Regions from separate parts of the Homo sapiens genome. Here regions 1, 3 and 4 are each linked to region 2. Evidence: fine-mapped expression QTL. A gene starts in region 2. Each other region holds a variant in brackets. All regions are shown on one strand. Distances are between the middles of the regions. Region 1 overlaps KNSTRN (kinetochore localized astrin (SPAG5) binding protein). Region 2 holds the start of DISP2 (dispatched RND transporter family member 2). Region 3 overlaps PLCB2 (phospholipase C beta 2). Region 4 holds the start of CHST14 (carbohydrate sulfotransferase 14).

Region 1 (5,144 bases), 32 kb after region 2:
CACTATTCTAGGGTAGTGGATCTCAATCCTTGGTTCTGCATCAGAATCATTTGTGGGACTTGTTTACTGTGTTAGGGTCTGGGTTCCACCTCAGGAACCTGAGTGGAATTTTCAGGGGTGAGGCACAGCTAGGTGTAAGAACCATTGTCAGTGCAAGAATCACTGGTGCTACTATCTTGTGTCTCAAGCAAGAGCTTTTTGGACTCCACGCCAGGACCACTGCTGATTGGAAATCACACTTAGCTATGGCCCATCAACAGGAGGGTAAAGCCTTCAGGAGAGGAAGGGCTGGGTGTATGTAGTTAGTGATCTCGAGATGAAGATTCTGGTGGTGGTGGTGGTGAAAACCTGGAGAAGGATTCATGTCTCATCTTTGAGGCTAGTTTGGAAGTTTTGCACTATCAGAAATAGAAATAATAAGCTGAAAAGTCTGTACAAATAGGTTTTAGTTCCAGATCTATTATTTGGGCATATCTTAAAAGTTTTGAAGACAGCAGGGCACACCAGCTCACACCTGTAATCGCAACACTTTGGGAGGCCAAGGTGGGTGGATCACCTGAGGTCAGGAGTTCGAGTCTAGCCTGGGAAACATGATGGGACCCCATCTCTACTAAAAATACAAAAATTAGCCAGGCATGGTGGCGCATGTCTGTAATCCCAGCTACTCAGGAGGCTGAGGCAGGAGGATCACTTCATCCCGGGAGGCAGAGATTGCAGTGAGCCAAGATCACGTCATTGCATTCCAGCCTGGGTGACAGAGCAAGACTCTGACTTACAAAAATAAAAAAGTTTTGAAGACAAAATACTAGCAAAAAAGACTGAGAACTTTAAGAAAAAACTCTAATATTGGTTGCTGAGACCAGCTTGGTCGGGGAGACCCTAACCCAGCGGCGCTAGAGGAATTAAAGACACACACACAGAAATATAGAGGTGTGAAGTGGGAAATCAGGGGTCTCACAGCCTTCAGAGCTGAGAGCCCCGAACAGAGATTTGCCCACGTATTTATTAACAGCAAACCAGTCATTAGCATTGTTTCTATAGATAGTAAATTAACTAAAAGTATCCCTTATGGGAAATGGATGGGCTGAATTAAAGGAATAGGTTGGGCTAGTTAACTGCAGCAGGAACACGCTCTTAAGACACAGATTGCTCATGCTATTGTTTGTGGCTTAAGAATGCCTTTAAGGGCCGGCGCAGTGGCTCACGCCTGTAATCCCAGGATTTTGGGAGGCCGAGGCGGGTGGATCTCAAGGTCAGGAGACCATCCTGGTTAACTATGGTGTTTCACCGTCTCTACTAAAAATACAAAAAATTAGCCAGGCATGGTGGCGGGTGCCTGTAGTCCCAGCTACTCGGGAGGCTGGGGCAGGAGAATGGTGTGAACCCAGGAGGTGGAGCTTGCAGTGAGCCGAGACCACGCCACTGCACTCCAGCCTGGGCGACGGAGCGAGACTCCATCTCAAAAAAAAAAAAAAATGCCTTTAAGTGGTTTTCCGCCCTTGGCAGGCCAGGTGTTCCTAGCCCTCATTCCCGTAAACCCACAACCTTCCAGCATGGGCATTAGGGCCTTTATGAACATGTTACAGTGCTGCAGAGATTTTGTTTATGGCCAGTTTTGGGGCCAGTTTATGGCCAGATTTGGGGGGCCTGCTCCCAACAATTGGTGATATTAGAGTTTATTAGATGATAAACTAACATTAGATAATAGCCCAGCTACTGGGCTAAGAAATGCACACGTGTTTTCTCTCTTATTACTCATAATAATAATACTATGAGATGTGGGTATTGTCCTGATTTCAAAAATGAGGAAACAAGGCCTCAGGGAGGTTATGCAACTCACTGAAGGTCATATACCACTGTGTAATAGCCAGGATAGAATGGGACGTGTTTGTGTAACTCTGTAGGCCGTATTTTTCTTTCTTTTTTTTTTAGACGGAGTTTTGCTCTTGTTGCCACCCAGGCTGGAGTGCAATGGCGCAATCTCAGCTCACCACAACCTCCGCCTCCTGGGTTCAAGCGATTATCCTGCCTCAGCCTCCCAAATACCTGGGATTACAGGCATGCGCCACCACGCCTGACTAATCTTTTGTAATTTTAGTAGAGACAGGGTTTCTCTTAT[C/T]TTGGTCAGGCTGGTCTTGATTTCCCGACCTCAGGTGATCTGCCTGCCTCAGCCTCCCAAAGTGCTGGGATTACAGGCATGAGCTACCGCACCTGGTGTGGGCCATACTGTTAACCCTTTTATCTTTTCATGTAAGTACAACTATTATTACAGCTACAAACCACTGAGTAAGCAAAAATCAGAGGAAGAGCTCAAGGACAAGAACCAGCTGTTAGAAGCCGTCAACAAGCAGTTGCACCAGAAGTTGACTGAAACTCAGGTAAGAGACCCACCAGAGCTCTGTTACCAGCTGCCACTGGGCGATCCACATGGAATCCTGATGGGTGGCCCCTTGGATGAGCAAGCTTGTTAATGCACAGATGCCCAAGGGCAGAAAAAAAAAGCCAGGCTTTTGCTATGGCTGTCCAAGAGCAAGGGCAAGAAAGGGCAACCACCCCTAGGGAGTTGGACAATTCCTGATCTGTCTGTGCTGTGCTCCAATAGGGAGAGCTGAAGGACCTGACCCAGAAGGTAGAGCTGCTGGAGAAGTTTCGGGACAACTGTTTGGCAATTTTGGAGAGCAAGGGCCTTGATCCAGGTAAGAGACAGCACACAGCTAGCCTCCTTTGAAGGAATTGGTGCATGTGCCCCTTCCGGGGTTGATCTTGGCAGCATGGCATCAGCTGGCCCAGTATGTGCAGGGGTTACTTTCATAAAGCCCTAAAGATTTTGGAAAGCTTCTGTTTGTTTTCATGTGATGTTGATTTTTGCCTGGCCAATAGGATTTCAGATGATTATAGAGAGAGGGTTATCTCTTTCTTACCTGAACACTTTATGCCATTCATTTAGTGCCAACAGGTATGACCTTGCAAATAGATGAGAAACACTTTGTTCCTTTCAAGGGAGAACATTTTCTGTCTCTTCCTATTTGGGAAAGTTACTAGTGTGCTTGAAAGGAACATTTTGTTTGAACATGCTCTTCCTTTCAAGCATACTAGTAATCCCAAATGGGAAGAGAAAGAAAATACTATTTCAAGCATTCTTAAACCTGGTTAATCATCAGAATTACAGTGACTAAAATATGACTACTATTCTGACCCTGTCCCCCAGAAAGCAGTATCTGTAGCAAAGAGAGCAGAAGAAGGAATTGCCCAAAGACTGTAAGAGGGCCTCAGACTGAGTCAAAGAGCCAGAGAATGCCCAGGAAAGGGGCCCAGGCCTTTTTGTATTAAGGAATACTGACTTTGAATGTTACTGGTTAATCTTTAGGTTACAGTTGAGGATATTCTTTTTTTTTTTTTGAGATGAAGTCTCATTCCATTGCCCAAGCTGAAGTGCAGAGGTGTGATTTCGGCTCACTGAAACCTCCTCCTCCTGGGTTCAAGTGATTCTCCTGCCTCAGCCTCCTGAGTAGCTGGGATTACAGGCGTGTACCACCACACCCAGCTAATTTTTGTATTTTTAGTAGAGATGGGGTTTTGCCATGTTGGTCAGGCTGGTCTCAAACTCCTGACCTCAAGTGATCTGCCTGTCTCGGCCTCCCAGAGTGCTGGGTTTACAGACATGAGTTACCATGCCCAGCCTAGGATATTCTTTATAGTCACCATAAATATATATGTTTTTAAATTTAAAATTGTTTATTTTTTTGAGATGGGATCTCGCTATGTTGCCCAGGCTGGCCTCCAACTCCTGGGCTCAAGCAATCCTCCCAAATAGCTGGGACTACAGGTGTGCACCACCACATCCGACACCATAAATATTTTGTATGATTTTAGTTTATTACATGCATGTGATATTACCGAAAGTAATAATTTTTTAAGGCCTGAAAGGCTCTTAAAAATAGCTTTGTGAATTGTGAACAAAACCAAAAAAAATCCAACCTATACATTTCCTTTGGACAAATTGTCCACTGACCTAAGGAGAAAGTATACCGAATTTTTGGCCATATCAAAACCTAGATTGAAAGGAGATAAAATACAGTTTTGCAGGGCAGATATGGGTGACCCTGCCAAGGTGAAAACTTAGGAGAAAGTCCAGGATGAGACACTTAAGAGAAATTCCCCTCATGAATATTTCTGTACTTGTCCACGGAGGGTTTTTATTTTCTTTTGTTTAGGGTGTGTAGTTCCCTAAGTGAGATTGACTTTGTTGTATCCATCAGCTTTAGGCAGTGAGACCCTGGCATCACGACAAGAATCCACTACTGATCACATGGACTCTATGGTGAGGGCATGGGTGTGAAAGGGCGCAAGGGCTGAGTGACTGTGGGGCTCTGTAAATCTAAGAAGGTCTCTGCTATATATTCCATAAACTCCAAGAAACAGCCTTTGATTATCTGTGATGCTAGAAAAGAGAAATGGGATGTGTACTCAAAATAGCATATTTTACTTGAAAGGTAGCTTTGTGCTTACAAATATAAGTGAGTCTGAATTGAAAATTTAAAACACATAATAGGTAAACCTGTAGAGAGAGCTTTCTCGTTCTTCTGTTCTATACTTTATCAAATTTCTCTCCTGACTCCTTTGTTGAGAACTGTGTGGAAAGGATGTTAGCCATCATCTAATGCAAGTCTGGTTTTATATGAAGATTTGTTTACTACATTGTGCTTTCCTCTTAGTTGCTGTTAGAAACTTTGCAAGAGGAGCTGAAGCTTTTTAACGAAACAGCCAAAAAGCAGATGGAGGAGTTACAGGTGAGAGGCAGACATCACCCTGACCATTTCCTACCATGATAGGTAGATTTATAGTGGGGTCTTTTCTGTTTTTCTATTTATTTTTAATAAACTTTCTAAATAATTTTAGATTTATAGGAAAGTTACAAAGATAATACAGAAAATTTACCCTGATAGTAACGTGTTTTTTTTTTTCCAACTTTTAAGTTCAGGGGTACACGTACAGGGTGTGTAGGCTTGTTACACAGGTAAACGTGTGCCATGGTGGTTAGCTGCACAGATCATCCCATCACCTAGGTATTGAGCCCAGCATCCATTAGCTATTCTTCTTGATGCACTTCCTCCTCCACCCCCAATAGTAACATCTTACATTAT
Region 2 (5,144 bases):
CACTCTGCAAGGGTTCCTGGGTGAGAGAAAGGAGAAGATGAAATAATTCTGCTTCTTAGTTGCAAATAAAATAAATCGAGGTACAGGGAGCGGGAGTCATATCTTGGCTCAAAGAATAGAAACCAATAAATCTAGGTTGCTTGCCTTTTATCTGCTCAGTGTTCTGGCCTCACCAAGGCAAAAGGCACGGGACATGCTACCCATGCCCCCAGCCCTCCACCGCAACTCCTTACTTGCCTAGAAATCCTGAGTCCCCCAGGGAAGTGGAGTGAGGGAGAGCTGATCTCAGGTAAGCTTAGCCCTGACCTCTGACTCTGACATTGTTCATTTGACTTTCCACAGGGGCACTGCCACTGTGGGGGGCATGGCCATCCTCCAGGTCACTGCGGGCCACCCCCTGGCCATGGCCCAGGGCCCTGCGGGCCACCCCCCCACCATGGTCCAGGGCCCTGCGGGCCACCCCCTGGCCATGGCCCAGGGCCCTGCGGGCCACCCCCCCACCATGGTCCAGGGCCCTGCGGGCCTCCCCCTGGCCATGGCCCAGGTCACCCACCCCCTGGTCCACATCACTGAGGAAGTAGAAGAAAACAGGACACAAGATGGCAAGCCTGAGAGAATTGCCCAGCTGACCTGGAATGAGGCCTAAACCACAATCTTCTCTTCCTAATAAACAGCCTCCTAGAGGCCACATTCTATTCTTTAAAGAGCCTGTCTTCCTTCATATCCAACCTGGCTGTCAGAGGACCCAGTTGTCTCCAAGCTCCCTAGTTGTGAAGATGGGGCAACCATCCTGGCATTCTCAGAAGCTTAATGCCATGGTGCTCACTATAAATGGCTGTGTAAGGTCACCTCTCCTTTCCTTTTCACTCCTGTGCCCTCCCATCGAGGAACTTCAAGTGTGGCCTCATTACCTCTATGCCATCCTGTACATCCAGATCTGGTGGGCCTTCCAAGGTTGCAGCTTGCATGCCTCACTCTACAGACCAGAAGCCTCCCTCCAATCCAGATGGTTTCTCACCATTCCCTTAAAATACACTGAACTTTCCAGCCCCCTTACCTTTGTTTGCACAGGTAAGGAAGAATGCCCCCACCCCAGGTCAGGAAGGCCTTCCCTCTCTCCTACCTCCACATTTCAAAGCCCACCCTTTCTTCCAAGCCAGCTGAAGCCCCACCATCTCCAAGAAGCCTTCTCTAAGGCCTATTAGGAAGAAAGAGGTCCTTCCTTTTTGCATACTGTCCCCTTCTCAACCACCTCATGGGCCTCACCATATCTTGCCTATTGGCAGCAATTTATGGGCTGGCCCTTTATCTCTCCAACCAAACTATAAGCTATTCAGGGCAGACCCAACACTTCTACACCTCTAGATTCTTCCACCCCATTTCTTATGACCTGTGTCTTACACGGACTGGCATTGGCACACATTTTAGGGATACCTATAGTCCAAGTGTTCCTGACTCTCTCCTCAGCCCCATGTCTTCAACCAAGGCCTCTCCCTGCACAAGTAACCAGGCCCTGAACAGCCTGCTTGCTGTAAAACCCTTTCTGCCTAGTCAAATCCCACATCCAGGATCCTCTCCACTCCCAGCCCCCCAGGCTTCTCACACTGCCAATATCTATTCTAGTTCTAGACCCCTTAGCCAGGCCTGTCCACAGTCCATCATACCCAAATGTGCTCTACTCACAGCTACTCCCTGGTGGGGGAGGTGGCACTGGAGTCAGTGGCTATTGGGCACCTCCCAGTGCCCTGGAGTCAGTGGCTATTGGGCACCTCCCAGGCTGAGGTGGGGTGGGGGGGCAGCGGTGACTATAAAAAAGGATCTGGGATCACTCAATATACCCTTATAACAAACCTGCACATGTGCCCCTGAATCAAAAATTAACCTTAGCTTACTGTGATTTGTTTGCTTTATAAACCTTTTAAATTTTAAAAAAGAAAGAGAAGGAGCTGGGGATGATCTGAGCGCCTCTCTTCTTCCCCCACCTCCTTCACCAGACTGCGCACTTGAGTAACGGAGTCAGGGCTCCGCATCTAAGGGGTGCACACCCAGGTCCAAGTCGAAGTCCAGAAGGATGGGAAGAAAGACCCAACCTGATGCCTCGCCCCACTGGGGAGGGGAGGAGGGCGCTGAGCGAGCCGGGAACCTCGCAGGCCTGAAGCCGCCCGCCTCGACCCGGGGCGTCCAGCGTGGTGAAGTGCGGGCGTGGAGCTCGCCCTCTATCCGGCTGGAAGGGTCTGCGTTTTGATTTGTGAGGATCTCTGCATGTGTCGCGCTCTCTGGTTCCTTACGGGAAGGCCGAGGCCGCTAGGAAGGGTTGCACGGCCGGACTCCTAACAGCGGCTCTCTGGCCTGGCGGGAGCAGAGGGGCGCTCACATCCGCAGCCCCGGGATCTTAGAGACAGAGCGCTCCGCTCCGGCAGCGGCGCCGCGCCCATTGGCTGGGCTCCTCCTCGCCCCGCCCAGCGACCGGCCCGCTCAGAGCCTACGCATGCGCACGAGCACCCCGCCGCCGCTGCCGCCGCCACCGCCGCCGCCGCCGCCGCCGCCGCGGCTTCAGCACCAGCGCCCGGACAGCGGTGCCGCCCACGGGCATGGACGGTGACAGCAGCAGCAGCAGCGGCGGCAGCGGTCCGGCTCCCGGCCCGGGTCCGGAAGGGGAGCAACGGCCCGAGGGGGAGCCCTTGGCCCCAGACGGCGGCTCCCCGGACAGGTAGGGCGGACAGCTCCGCAGATCCGTATCACAGACCCTCCCAGACCCTCCCCGCCCCAGGTATCCCCAGTAGCCGCCATATGTTGCCCCATTCATTCCCCAGACCCTCCCGGAGCCCCTTCCCGGGGTCGCCAAGCTCCAGGCCCCCCTCGCCACGCCCTCATCCTGCCGGGTCAATTTCCTCGCTCCCTGACACCCCCTAGTGTCAGCCCCCATCGCCCTCCCCGCTTAGGGAACCTGCCCCACCCACGGCTCCTACCCCTCCTCTCAGGCCAGGACTCCCTGGCTCCTCCGGCCCCTCCTTCTAGGCCCTGCCCCTGCGTCTTCTCCGGAAGCCCCAAGCCCGCAGTAACCTCAGTCCGGGTTTCAGCGTGCCAGTGTGCATGAAGGTGTGCGTGAATCGCGGATGGGAGGCTCGCCAAGGCGGGTGTCCTGGGGAAGGCAGACATTCGGCAGGCACGTCAGGGACTGTCTTTGTCACCATCAGTCGCTTGCCTGCCCTGCATGACCCCCAGCTGTGCACGTGTGGGTTCCAGTCCCTGCATGTGGCAGCCACACTGGCTGGAGCCGCTAAGATGGGAAGGATTTGGTGCTCAGGCTGCTGGCCTGTACCACCCCTGGAGGAGCCCCATACTGGTGGGACAGGAGGGACACCTTCCTGCTGAGGGCCCAGATCTCAGCACCTCTCTTCTCCCTTCCTCCACCATATGTGTGAGGGAACAGCCCAGCTAGGTAGCAATATGGCGCAATTTCTGTGCCCTGCCTGGCTCTGCCGCCCCCAGAATCCCTCCTCTGACATGACACTGCCTCTTTCCTGCCTGGACTGAAATAAAAGGCATTCCTTGATAGCAATAGCAGAAGTGGACACATCGTCTCCAGAATACCCCAGTTAAAATGTACATTCTGTACCCCAGAGGGGGAGAAAGCCCCACAAGTAGAGAGAAATGCTTTCTTCCCTTTATTGTTAACACATTAGCCTGGATAGATTTAGCCACTCTTCAGTCTGAAAGTCACAAAGCCTTCAAGAAGGTGAGACACAGGATGGGTGTATTCACCAGTCCAGGGACCTGCCTGGGACTATGGCCTGATCAAAGATGGGGCAGTGACAGGACAGAGCGAGGACCTGGGGCCAGAAGCATCCCTAGAAGGGGCAGGAGAGTCATTTGCTGTCTCAGATATCTTGCCAAGGATCAGCCATGTCCAGTCTCATTTCCCCTGGGCACAGGATCCACTTGCTCTCTTCCAGAAACTCCCTGGGGCCTCTGGCCCCTCTCTGGACTTCTCCAGAGACCATAGACACTAATTGGGCATAGGGACTTGCTTATGTGATTCAAGAAACACAAAAATGCTCCTGCTGACCTGAGTAGCACTCTGGGGATAGATACACAGTGAATAACTCACACACACAACATGCGCATGTGCACACACACTGGCTAGAGAGGAATTTGAAATAGTTCACACTTTGTGTTTTTAAAATTACCTTTTTATTTTCCTAGTGATATGAGCTGCTTCCCCATCTGTCCTGGCCACTCTGTGGGATCACACTGATGTTCACCTGGCTGTGTGTCTGTGGGCTTGGGGGTATAGTTAATGCGATATACATTTGCCCCTTATGGGGCTTCCAGGTTTGGTCTCTGTGTCTAGGAGCCTGTCAGCCAGGCCCTGATTGCTGGGATGCTGGCCTCTTAAATGAGGCCTGCATCCCCACTTTCCATCCCCCTGCCTGCCCTACTCACTTGGCGTACAGGCCTGCAGGCCCGGGCAGGCAACCCTGGAAGTTACTCATCCCAGTGAGGGCCATGGAACTGAGGGAGTGAGAATAAAAAACCCCTGTGTAGCCCTGGGGTGCTTAACTCCTATTTTACTGAGCCTCCTGAGATCAGAGGGCAGCAGGAGGTGACAAGAGAAAGCTTTTATTCTGAGAAGAGTGGAGGTCGGTTTTTCTCATGGGAGTTTTGAAGAAAAGGCCTGGCTCTACAGCAGTCAGAATATGGAAGGTTTCAAATTCTGCCACATTGATAATGGTGGGCACAGTCAGGAAGGGTGAGATTGGGGGCAGCTGATCCTAGGTCCCTGAAGAGGAATAGTAGGAGTTAAAGGGAAGGAGCTGGGGCCAGGGAGACTCCAGCAGAAGCAAACCAGTGGTGGAGGCTAAGATCCCCCTTGAACAAGAGCCAGCTAAGGAAAAGGGTGGACTTGGGAGGTTTTAGAAAACTGGGTAACCAAGAGTGCACCCACTCTTCTCCCGTATCCTCTGGAATGCTGGCTTCCCCTAATGCAAAAGAAACCAACACTCCAAGTGGGGCCCTGGCTCCTAAGACAAGCCCAGTGATCAGTTATCTAAGGCCATGGGCAGCTGGAACAGGCCCCCCACCTCCACCCAGGCTGCCCCACTCTCCTGACCTCTAGAAGGCAAGCCCTGCTCTGAAGAGGG
Region 3 (5,144 bases), 60 kb before region 2:
TGTTTGGTGCCAAGTTCCTCACTAGAGAAACTGGGAGCCACTGCCACTTAAGCAAGCCCTTTGCCTGACTCCGTGGCTGGATATTTATAGGCAGGGCCCCAAGTCCAAGGAAGGGGGAGATCCCCCTTCTTCTTACCCACCCGTAAGTTACTCATGCTAACTTACGGGCAGAGAACTCAAAGGAGACGAACTTGGTGGGCTGGATGTAATTGACTAGGCTGGACATCTCCTCATAAGCCGTCACTTCCAGGCCCGCTGTGCCCTAAGGAGAAGAGGGGAGGGCAAAGAAGAGGAGGATGGTGCAGAGCCCAGGAATGGGGCCCAAGGCCCCCATCCAGGGGGCTTAACGGTGGAGGATGACACAGAGGGGCCTGGGGCTACCCCCACACACCTCATCCGACTGCATCTTCTTAATCTCTTCTTCATCCAGGTTTCCTGACTCCTCCTCCTCTTCCTCTTCCACCTCCTCCTCCTCCAGCTCAGTCCCTTCCTCGCCAGCCCACACTGCCACATACAGCTCTGTCGGCACTGGCTCCTGCATGGCTCCTCCAGGTCCAGCCCCTCTCCTGTTCCAGATGCTCCTAATACCCCCCACCATAGTCCTCCCCGACTCACCTGTGCCCTCACCTGCAGGGGCACTGGGTGGGCTGCTGCCCTCAGCCTCCCCACCAGTATCCTTACTGGAGGAGGTGGGGCCAGAAAACTGGTTCTTCTTGTTCTTGATGAGGATCTTGCCCCTGAGATCCTCAGGGCTGGGCAGGGGGACACCTGGTTTTAGCTATGGAGTGGAGAGCAGGTCAGCACCATCTTCTCACCTTCATGGCATAGCCTGAGCTCCTTATTACCAGGCATGCTCCCTCGGCCTCCCCCACTCCTCTTGACCTGCCTCTCACTACTGCTTATCATCCCCATTCTCACTGAGATAAATCCAGCTTATCCCTTGGAGTAAATGCGGCTCATCTTGTGCTTGTTGTAGCTGTCCCTGAGTATGGGACCCTGGCCCAAGGCCATCTGCACCAGGAGGACCTAACAGGCTACTCTAGGAGCCCTGTCCATCACTTCCTCCAGGAAGCCTTCCCTGATCCCCAAGACCAGATCAGAACTCCCCAGGTGCTCCCATAACAACCACTGGATTGTAATGGCCTGGTTACTTGTCTGTCTCCTCACTAGAGGGTAATACACCTGAGGGCAGTGACTGTGTCTTTGTCACTAGCATACCCTGAAGCCCAGCCCAGTGCCTGACACACGGAAGGTGACAGGATCCCAGACCCGCATCTAACCAAGTGAACCCTAGCATCCTCTGGGAGTGTCTCCCTCCCTAACCTGGTTCTCACCCTGCCCCAGGTTCCCAGGCCCAAGGCTCAAATGTCCCACAGCGAAGCCCACTCACTGGGAACTTTTCCAGGGGCTCTGTGAGCAGCATATCCCCAAAGATCGTCCGGCAATACTCAGCCATCTTAGCCTGCTGGCGGGGTCTGCGGGGAGCAAAAGCGGGGATGGGGTTCAGCCGCTCAGCACCAACCCTATTATGCATCCTTTTGTGCCCTTGATGACCCAGATCAGGGGCCAGGAGGTCAGGGAGGCTGGGACTCGAGCAGGAGAACATGAGGCCTTAGGGTGATTATACTGAGACGTGGGAGAAGCTGTAGGCAATGGTTAGAGGCTGGGGCAGTTGTGGGGAGGACAGTTGCAGACAGGAGACTGGGGGCTGGGTGAGAATGTGGCTGAATGGGCCTGGATACGCACGAGTCCACATGGTTCTCAAACGACAGGATGATGGGATAGGGGGAGGTCTTAAAGGCGCTTTCTGCAATAGCCTCAATTGCTTCCTGGAGGAGAAGGAGACTCCATGAACAGAAGGTCAGCGTTCCGACTGCCTGTCTCGTGATAGCACTTTTCCCCCCTGCCTAGTTTCAATACACACATATAACTGCATGGCCGCCATTGGCCCCCAATCCCTGCTGGTCCCCAATGGTCTGAGGCCTTCCAGCCATTCATCTTCTCTAGCTTCAGCCCTCCAACCCCTCAAAGCTTCTGGCCCAGAGCCCTTCCCTACTGCCACGGCCACCAGCCTCTGTGCCCAGGGTCTCACTTTGAAGAAGATGTCTGTGGTCATGGTGAAGCCATGGGTGATAATGGGCTCCTCGTCAGGGGGTTTCCCCTTCCAGCAGTCTAGCTCCACGCAACGGCAGCCAGAGAGCAGCACCTGGCGGTACATCTCAGCCGAGGAGAGGCCTGAGAACTGGCCGGCTGAGCCAGAGGATGGGGAAGAGGTGAGGGCATCACCCAAAGGCAGCCCAGCTCTCCCCCTACCGCCACTCCATCATGGTCTGTGTTATTCTCAGGGCCAGCAGCATGTGGGCAACCCCTGTGGAGGATGCAGGGAACCCCTGTGAAAGCAGAGGTTGGCACCAATGTTATCAGGGCCCACCTGTCAGGTAGGTGTTGTGGGACGAGTTGATGAAGTAATGATTGAGTGGCTGCGTCATGTCGTGGTGGAGCAGCAGCTTGTCCTGGGCCAGCACGCTGTTCTCTGGCCCACAGAGAAACCAGACCATGCCTTCAGGTGACAGCTGGCCTGGGGGACAGGAGATAGCTGTCAGGCTACAACCCCGCTGCCAAGGCAGGACAGGACCACAGGGGACAAGGGGTTCCCTTAGTCCTCACCCCTCTGTGCATTGATGCCACTGGGCTCATACTTGTCGATGAGGCCCTGCACCTGGTCAGGCCGTGCTGGCGGGAACAGCAGGGAGTTAAGCCGGGAGTCCCGCTGTTTCTGGTTGATGAATTTGGTCAGGTGCTCCTTCGTCATGTAGGGTTTGGCCTTAGCATGGCTTCAAGC[CAG/C]AGAGAAGAGCACAGGTCCATATCCCTTGGGCCTGGAGGCTTAGACAACCCCCTTGTCCAGTGAAGCCTCCTGACTCCCGGCATGGCAGGTGGGAGGAGGGGATTGTTAGCCACCACCCTTTTCCCATGACCAGCACAACCCAAGAAACTCACTAAGAAGTGAAGATCTCATCTATTTCTGGCCGAGGACAGAGGCTCATGAGGAAACTCTTGTAGACAGGTTCTGGGAAGTCCTCAGGATTGATGGCGTCATTCTAGGGGCATAGTAACCTTATTGCCCCTGCCCTCACCTTCTCAGAGCTAAGAACCACAAACTCGGCCCAGCCCTGGTCAAGGGGACCTGGTCAGAAGGCGGGCTCAAGGCAGACAGAAGAACTTCAAGGACACCCAAGCATCCACTTCTCAAGGCCCTGGTTGCTGAGCAGAGAGCATGCTTAGCTGGTTTGCTCTGACCCTGATTTTGTACAGTGGCTATTCCATTGGCTGGGGCAGGATCGGAACTAAGAATAACCAGAATGAGGTAGAAAAGAGGTCAGAAGAAATGATGCTGCTTGCCAGGCTAGTAGGCTATCTTTTTTAAGTGGAGGACAAATATTCAAAAAGAAGCAATTTGAATATAAACATATATGCACCTAACAACAGAACCCCATAATATATAAAACAAAAACTGATAGAATTGAAAGGAGGACAATTCAACAATAATATTTGGAGACACCAAAAGCACCGGGACAAAGAAAGATAAATTAAACGTCATCAAAATTAAAAACTTTTGTGCTTCAAAGGACACCATCAAGAAAGTGAAAAGGTAACCCACAGAATGGGATAAAATATTTGCAAATCAGATATCCGATAAGAGATAAGTCAACAAAAAGACAACCCAGTTGAAAGATGGACAATGGATTTGGACAGGTATTTCTCCAAAGAAGATATATAAGTGACTAATAAACACAGAAAAGGTGCTCAATATAATTTGTAGTTAGAGACATGCAAATCAAAACCACAATGAGATACCACTCCCACTAGGATGGCTAAAACAAAAAACAGACAATCACAAGTGTCAGCGGGATGTGACTAACCTAAAACCCCACACAGCACTTTGGGAGGCCGAGGAGGGTGGATCACCTGAGGTCAGGAGTTCGAGACCAGCCTGGCCAACATGGTGAAACCCCATCTCTACTAAAAATACAAAAATTAGCCCAGCATGGTGGCACATGCTTGTAATCCCAGCTACTTGGGAGGCTGAGGCAGGAGAATTGCTTGAACCTGGGAGGCAGAGGTTGCAGTGAACTGAGATCACGCCACTGCACTCCAGCCCGGGCAACAGAGTGAGACTCTGTCTCAAAAATAAATAAATAAATCCCTACACAATGCTCTCACTTTAGAAAACAGTTTGGCGGTTTCTCAAATTGTTAAATATAGAGTGACCACATGACCCAACAATTCCACCCCTGGGTATATACCCAAGAGAATTTACACATGTTCACACAAAATCATGTACATGAATATTCATAACCAAAAAGTACAAAAAACCCAAACATCTACCAACTGATAAACAGATGAACAAAATGTGGTATATCCATACAATGGAATATTATTAGGTGGTAAAAAGGAATGAAGTACTCATGCATGCTACAACATGGATAAACCTTGAAAACATTATGAGAAATGAATACAGCCTGACATCGAAAAGCATATATTTATGATTTCATTTACTTTACCACCAGAATAGGCAAATCTATAGAAATAGAAATGAAAAGTACATTTGTGGTATTCAGGGATTCTGCACCTTTGCATTCCTTCCCCCCCCAAAAAAAACATTAAATGTCTTTCAGAATCACACTGGAAGGCCAACATCAGTCTTAGTTTGGAGCAGAGGGTCTGAGCAGGAGAGTCTAACTGGATCTCCCCAAACCCCTCCCTGTCTCTGGAGCTTCAGCTCCAAGCAAAGTTGGGTCAGTAGCCTCTACTGAGACACAAGGAAAGCAGATAGATAAGGAGGACTTAGCCAAGGGAGGAGCTCAGGCAGCAGGAGAGAGGGAGGGTGGATGTGTGCTGACCACAGGTAAGTGTTGCTGGCTGTAGGGGAGCCGCAGGAGCCCATTCCTACCTCTCCCCAACGCCACATTTGGATCCCTGTGACTGACTGCATCAAGGAGTCACCAACTCTGCAGAGCTGTGGCTGTGGGGTAAATGCTCCTCCTGGGATTCATGTGGGCAGGTGATCAATGGGGGTCGTGGTTTTATTTATTTATAACGTTCCAAATTCTTACCAGGAGAAAATACTCCATGGGGTATAGGCT
Region 4 (5,144 bases), 110 kb after region 2:
GATGAAGGCCCTCCTCCCAGGAGGTAGGGTCTTGGCTGCCCCGAACTTAAATGCTTTTGAAATCTCTTAGATGTGGAAATATTTTTTCGAACCTGAAAATGCAGCTGGTAGAATTTCAATGGAAGCATAATCCATGTAAAATATATTTTAGTTGATATTTTGTAAAATGCACTTTTTGTGTGTGTTGATCCTGGTTTCCCAGATCTGTATTTCAGTGTTTACAAGGGAGGAAGGACCTTTCCTCACCTCCCTTTTGACAGAGATTAGAAGTACTTCTTTAAGAAAAAAATAAATTTGAGAAATTGTATTGATTTAGAAAAGGATCGTTTCCTGTGTGTCCTGTCATCTTTTGGTGTGTGGGTGTGGAGAGACCCACTATTCTTATTTCAGAGGTCCCTCTTAACCCCTGTGGCATGGATGCTCACCAAGGCCAATGAGCAAAGAGGGCAGGGAAGCAGAGGGAAAAGAGAGTGAGGGAAGGAGACAGAGGGACTGGGAACTTGGAGTTGACTTCTTGATTTCATGGTGGCCACAGCTGCCTGCTTAGGTCTGTGTGAAATACTTCAGTTGCCAGCCCTCACCTGACCAGTGACCTGGAAATTGGTCCCCAAGTAGGTACATGGCAAAGATACCTTCTTATCACTGGCCTCATGCAGTGGCTCCTGCCTGTAATCCCAGTGCTTTGGGAGGCAGAGGCAGGAGGGTTACTTGAGCCTAGGAGTTTAAGACCAGCCTAGGCAACATAGACCATGTCTCTCGAAAAATTTAAAAATTAGCCCGGCATGTCAGTGCATGCCTATAGTCTCAGTCAGGAGGCTAAGGTAGGAGGATTGCTTGATCCCAAGAGCACGAGGCTGCAGTGAGCCGTGATCATACCACTGCAGCCTGGGTGACAGAGTGAGATCCTGTCTCAGAAAAGAAAAAAAAAGCATCCCTCCTCATCACCTTGGGTAACTGGCCAGCACTGTCCTAGGGCCTCAGTGTCTTGCAGCTGGTGCTTCTTGCTTGCTGAGGAAGGCCACATCATGGGGCCAAGGGTCTGCGGCCAGCTGACCCCTGCTTCAGCCCAGCCCTGGTCCCAGCCTGGAAGCCTCAGTGTTGACCATGTTCCAGGTGGGGCAGCTCTAAGGCCATAGAGGTTCCTGGGAGCCACAGCACCCCCCCGCCCCGCCTCCACTTCTGCATTTTGCTAAGGCATGGTGCATGTGGGCAGGAACATTTTTTCAGAATTTATTGGTGGCACAGACACCACCATGGATTTTTCTAGCTCTGCCTTCAGTGTGGTGTCCACAAGACTCCCTTGAGGCGAGTGGTAGCTTGTCCTTATCTTACAGACAAGAAATTGGTATGGAGATAAGTACCAGGCCCAAGGACTCCCCCTGCCTCACCCTGACTGCTAACACAGAAAACTACCCTGTAACACAGAAGGGAGCACATGTGGCCACATTATCAAAAGATTTTTAAAGGTCTAAGGCCTTTTTTTCCTCTCCTGGTTTAAAGGACATACTTACTGGAAAATATGATTTTAATAGAAAATCCTATCACCAGAAATGTATACCTTTAGGATTATTGGAAGCAAGGAGCAGTGTAGACAAGGCAGAACCTTCACGCAAACTTCTGGTGCAGCAAATGGACAGGTGGTAGCCTGCAGATGCACTGGGGCAATCAGATGTGGAGAGCCTGCCCTGGAGAGCTGGAAGGCTGCAAGGCTTTACCGTTCCTTCCCCTGGCTCATCTGTGTGCTTTTCCTGTTGCTGGGATTGTGGGGTCATCAGTGAGCCCTCTAGTATCACCTCATCCCTCAAGTCCCCTCACCCTTCTGAATTCATCTGATCACTGGTAGCTCCATTCTCCCACTGGTATCTTCTATTTTCCATCACCTGCTCTGTACAGTCCGCCCTCGAGTCAGCTGCTTCCTCCCTTCTAGCCATTCCATGATATGCTCCTTTAATCTCTGAAGGGCCGTGATTAGAAATTTAGGTTTTAGACTCAGAACCACCCATACTGAGTCACATCTTCCCTGAGCCTCTGTTACTTCAGCTGTACAAAGGGAATGTCCACACTAGCTCCCTGCCAGGGTGGCTGTAACAACTAAAGGAGATAATGAATATAAAACACTTAGTGGGCGCTGTCCTCAGTACACTTGGGCTCTAATCATATTCCTCTGCTGCTTCAGAGGCTTGCTGGCTCTCTGCAGGCAGCAAGCACATAGCTGGACCAAGTCTGGCTACTGAGCCAGGTTCCCAGTGGGAAATGGTGGTTGCTGACATCCAAAGCACTTCGGGTCTGCTGTCCGCCCAAGTGACCAGCCTGGTGCCATGGAGCACACATCTAGCTCCAGGCAAGGAGACTACGTGCTGTTTCCCTGCTGTTTTGTGCCCCCAGCTCCTCACCCTTCCAAATGTGTGTTGGCCACACCAGCAGCTGATGGACCAATGTGTCAGACCCTCCCCAGAGTGCCCAGTTATCCCACTGCCTCATGAGGAGAAGGCAGAGGAGGGGAGACTCCATTTCCAGACATTTCAGCATTACCCAGTGGACAAGCACTGTAGTCAGTCCCCAGGTATTGCTAAACACAAGGGTCACCATGGA[G/GAC]ACTGGTCAGTGTCTGACAGTTCTGCTTCTCCTTCCTGGAGTGGCCACGACCTGCAGGACGGAGGGAGTTAAGGGTGGCAAGGGGGAGCACACCGAGGGCTCCGCTTCCAGCTGGAAAGACCAGCCTCCGGCACGTCTGGACTCGGAGAGAGCGCTGCCCGCCTCCCTGCCTCCAGACCCGTTGCTGGAGGAAGGGCTAGGACAGGCCTGAGTTTGTGGCGAATCCCCCTTGTCCACTTCCCTGAGGACACACGCTGCAGGAGAGCAGCCTCGAGTCTTTTCTGCCTTCGAGGTCTCAGGAGCTTTTGTCCCCAAGCCCAGAGGACAGGGGTGGCCCTGACTCAGGCGCCCTCTTCCGGGTAGGGGTCCGCGTGCGCCCTCCCAAGCCCGCGCCCCGCAGGGGCGCCCGCCCCTCTCCCCGCCCCCGGCGTGGGCCCGCCCCCGCGCCTGTGTCACTGCGAGGCCGGGGGTGGAGAGCGGCCGGGCGGGACATCCGGCCCGGGTCCCTCGCCGCGCCCGCCGCCCGCCGCCCGCTTCGGCGCCGCAGCCCGGGAGCCGGCCACCCCTACACGCGCCAGGGCTGTCCCCTGCCCTCCCCTCCCCAACTACCCCCGGTCCCAGACCCTCCTCCCGCCCCCAGCCCGAGCCCGCCTTCCAGGCCGCCCTCGGATCGGCCGGGCCCGCGCAGGCCCCCACCCCTTGAGCACCATGTTCCCCCGCCCGCTGACCCCGCTGGCGGCCCCAAATGGCGCCGAGCCCCTGGGCCGGGCGCTGAGGCGGGCCCCTCTGGGCAGGGCCCGGGCGGGGCTGGGTGGGCCGCCCCTGCTGCTGCCGTCCATGCTGATGTTTGCGGTGATCGTGGCCTCCAGCGGGCTGCTGCTCATGATCGAGCGGGGCATCCTGGCCGAGATGAAGCCCCTGCCCCTGCACCCGCCCGGCCGCGAGGGCACAGCCTGGCGCGGGAAAGCCCCCAAGCCTGGGGGCCTGTCCCTCAGGGCTGGGGACGCGGACTTGCAAGTGCGGCAGGACGTCCGGAACAGGACCCTGCGGGCGGTGTGCGGACAGCCAGGCATGCCCCGGGACCCCTGGGACTTGCCGGTGGGGCAGCGGCGCACCCTGCTGCGCCACATCCTCGTAAGTGACCGTTACCGCTTCCTCTACTGCTACGTCCCCAAGGTGGCCTGCTCTAACTGGAAGCGGGTGATGAAGGTGCTGGCAGGCGTCCTGGACAGCGTGGACGTCCGCCTCAAGATGGACCACCGCAGTGACCTGGTGTTCCTGGCCGACCTGCGGCCTGAGGAGATTCGCTACCGCCTGCAGCACTACTTTAAGTTCCTGTTTGTGCGGGAGCCCTTGGAACGCCTCCTCTCTGCCTACCGCAACAAGTTTGGCGAGATCCGAGAGTACCAGCAACGCTATGGGGCTGAGATAGTGAGGCGGTACAGGGCTGGAGCGGGGCCCAGCCCTGCAGGCGACGATGTCACATTCCCCGAGTTCCTGAGATACCTGGTGGATGAGGACCCTGAGCGCATGAATGAGCATTGGATGCCCGTGTACCACCTGTGCCAGCCTTGTGCCGTGCACTATGACTTTGTGGGCTCCTATGAGAGGCTGGAGGCTGATGCAAATCAGGTGCTGGAGTGGGTACGGGCACCACCTCACGTCCGATTTCCAGCTCGCCAGGCCTGGTACCGGCCAGCCAGCCCCGAAAGCCTGCATTACCACTTGTGCAGTGCCCCCCGGGCCCTGCTGCAGGATGTGCTGCCTAAGTATATCCTGGACTTCTCCCTCTTTGCCTACCCACTGCCTAATGTCACCAAGGAGGCGTGTCAGCAGTGACCATGGGTGTGGGGCCAGCAGCTGGTGGGGACTGGTTTCAACGCCAGCTTTCTGTGCTTCTGCCTGTCATTCGGAGAAACTCTGGCTCTGGGGCTTGGGGCTTCTCAGGATCCTGGATGGCAGAGACTGCCCTCAGAAGTTCCTTGTCCAGGGTGGGCACCCACAGTGACTCAGAGGACAGGGCTAGGCAGGAGACCTGCTGCTCCTCATTGGGGGGATCTCTTGGGGGGCAGACACCAGTTTGCCAATGAAGCAACACATCTGATCTAAAGACTGGCTCCAGACCCCGGGCTGCCAGGATTATGCAGTCCACTTGGTCTACCTTAATTTAACCTGTGGCCAAACTCAGAGATGGTACCAGCCAGGGGCAAGCATGACCAGAGCCAGGGACCCTGTGGCTCTGATCCCCCATTTATCCACCCCATGTGCCTCAGGACTAGAGTGAGCAATCATACCTTATAAATGACTTTTGTGCCTTTCTGCTCCAGTCTCAAAATTTCCTACACCTGCCAGTTCTTTACATTTTTCCAAGGAAAGGAAAACGGAAGCAGGGTTCTTGCCTGGTAGCTCCAGGACCCAGCTCTGCAGGCACCCAAAGACCCTCTGTGCCCAGCCTCTTCCTTGAGTTCTCGGAACCTCCTCCCTAATTCTCCCTTCCTTCCCCACAAGGCCTTTGAGGTTGTGACTGTGGCTGGTATATCTGGCTGCCATTT

What was found. PIP is the estimated chance that this variant, and not a neighbour inherited with it, causes the effect.
Region 1: its variant is the best candidate, but not a certain one, in a credible set for the expression of DISP2 in transverse colon (GTEx, PIP 0.89).
Region 3: its variant is the best candidate, but not a certain one, in a credible set for the expression of DISP2 in subcutaneous fat (GTEx, PIP 0.84).
Region 4: its variant is the best candidate, but not a certain one, in a credible set for the expression of DISP2 in fibroblasts (GTEx, PIP 0.86).

What each region holds. Positions count from the first base shown.
Region 1 is chr15:40,387,234-40,392,377 of GRCh38, forward strand. It overlaps KNSTRN (kinetochore localized astrin (SPAG5) binding protein), which reads left to right. Exons shown (of 9, transcript NM_033286.4): 5 at 2,273-2,378; 6 at 2,603-2,696; 7 at 4,260-4,321; 8 at 4,716-4,790. Among named protein-coding and RNA genes, the nearest start is that of KNSTRN, 7.1 kb to the left of the region's middle. The variant C/T (reference allele first, on the strand shown) is at 2,120.
Region 2 is chr15:40,355,731-40,360,874 of GRCh38, forward strand. DISP2 (dispatched RND transporter family member 2) reads left to right here and starts at 2,489. Exons shown (of 8, transcript NM_033510.3): 1 at 2,489-2,710. The coding sequence starts at 2,592. PHGR1 (proline, histidine and glycine rich 1) reads left to right here. Exons shown (of 4, transcript NM_001145643.2): 4 at 343-704. The coding sequence ends at 573. LOC124903472 (a long non-coding RNA gene) reads right to left here. Exons shown (of 4, transcript XR_007064597.1): 4 at 4,176-5,144. RefSeq lists a silencer at 2,410-2,669.
Region 3 is chr15:40,296,131-40,301,274 of GRCh38, forward strand. PLCB2 (phospholipase C beta 2) reads right to left here. Exons shown (of 32, transcript NM_004573.3): 8 at 2,998-3,098; 9 at 2,668-2,834; 10 at 2,432-2,578; 11 at 2,093-2,250; 12 at 1,747-1,829; 13 at 1,391-1,475; 14 at 616-778; 15 at 392-504; 16 at 166-262. Among named protein-coding and RNA genes, the nearest start is that of PLCB2, 9.2 kb to the right of the region's middle. The variant CAG/C (reference allele first, on the strand shown) is at 2,843.
Region 4 is chr15:40,467,914-40,473,057 of GRCh38, forward strand. BAHD1 (bromo adjacent homology domain containing 1) reads left to right here. Exons shown (of 7, transcript NM_014952.5): 7 at 1-323. CHST14 (carbohydrate sulfotransferase 14) reads left to right here and starts at 3,071. Exons shown (of 1, transcript NM_130468.4): 1 at 3,071-5,144. The coding sequence starts at 3,301. The coding sequence ends at 4,431. RefSeq lists enhancers at 2,543-2,652, 3,935-4,838 and silencers at 2,943-3,182, 3,233-3,482. The variant G/GAC (reference allele first, on the strand shown) is at 2,593.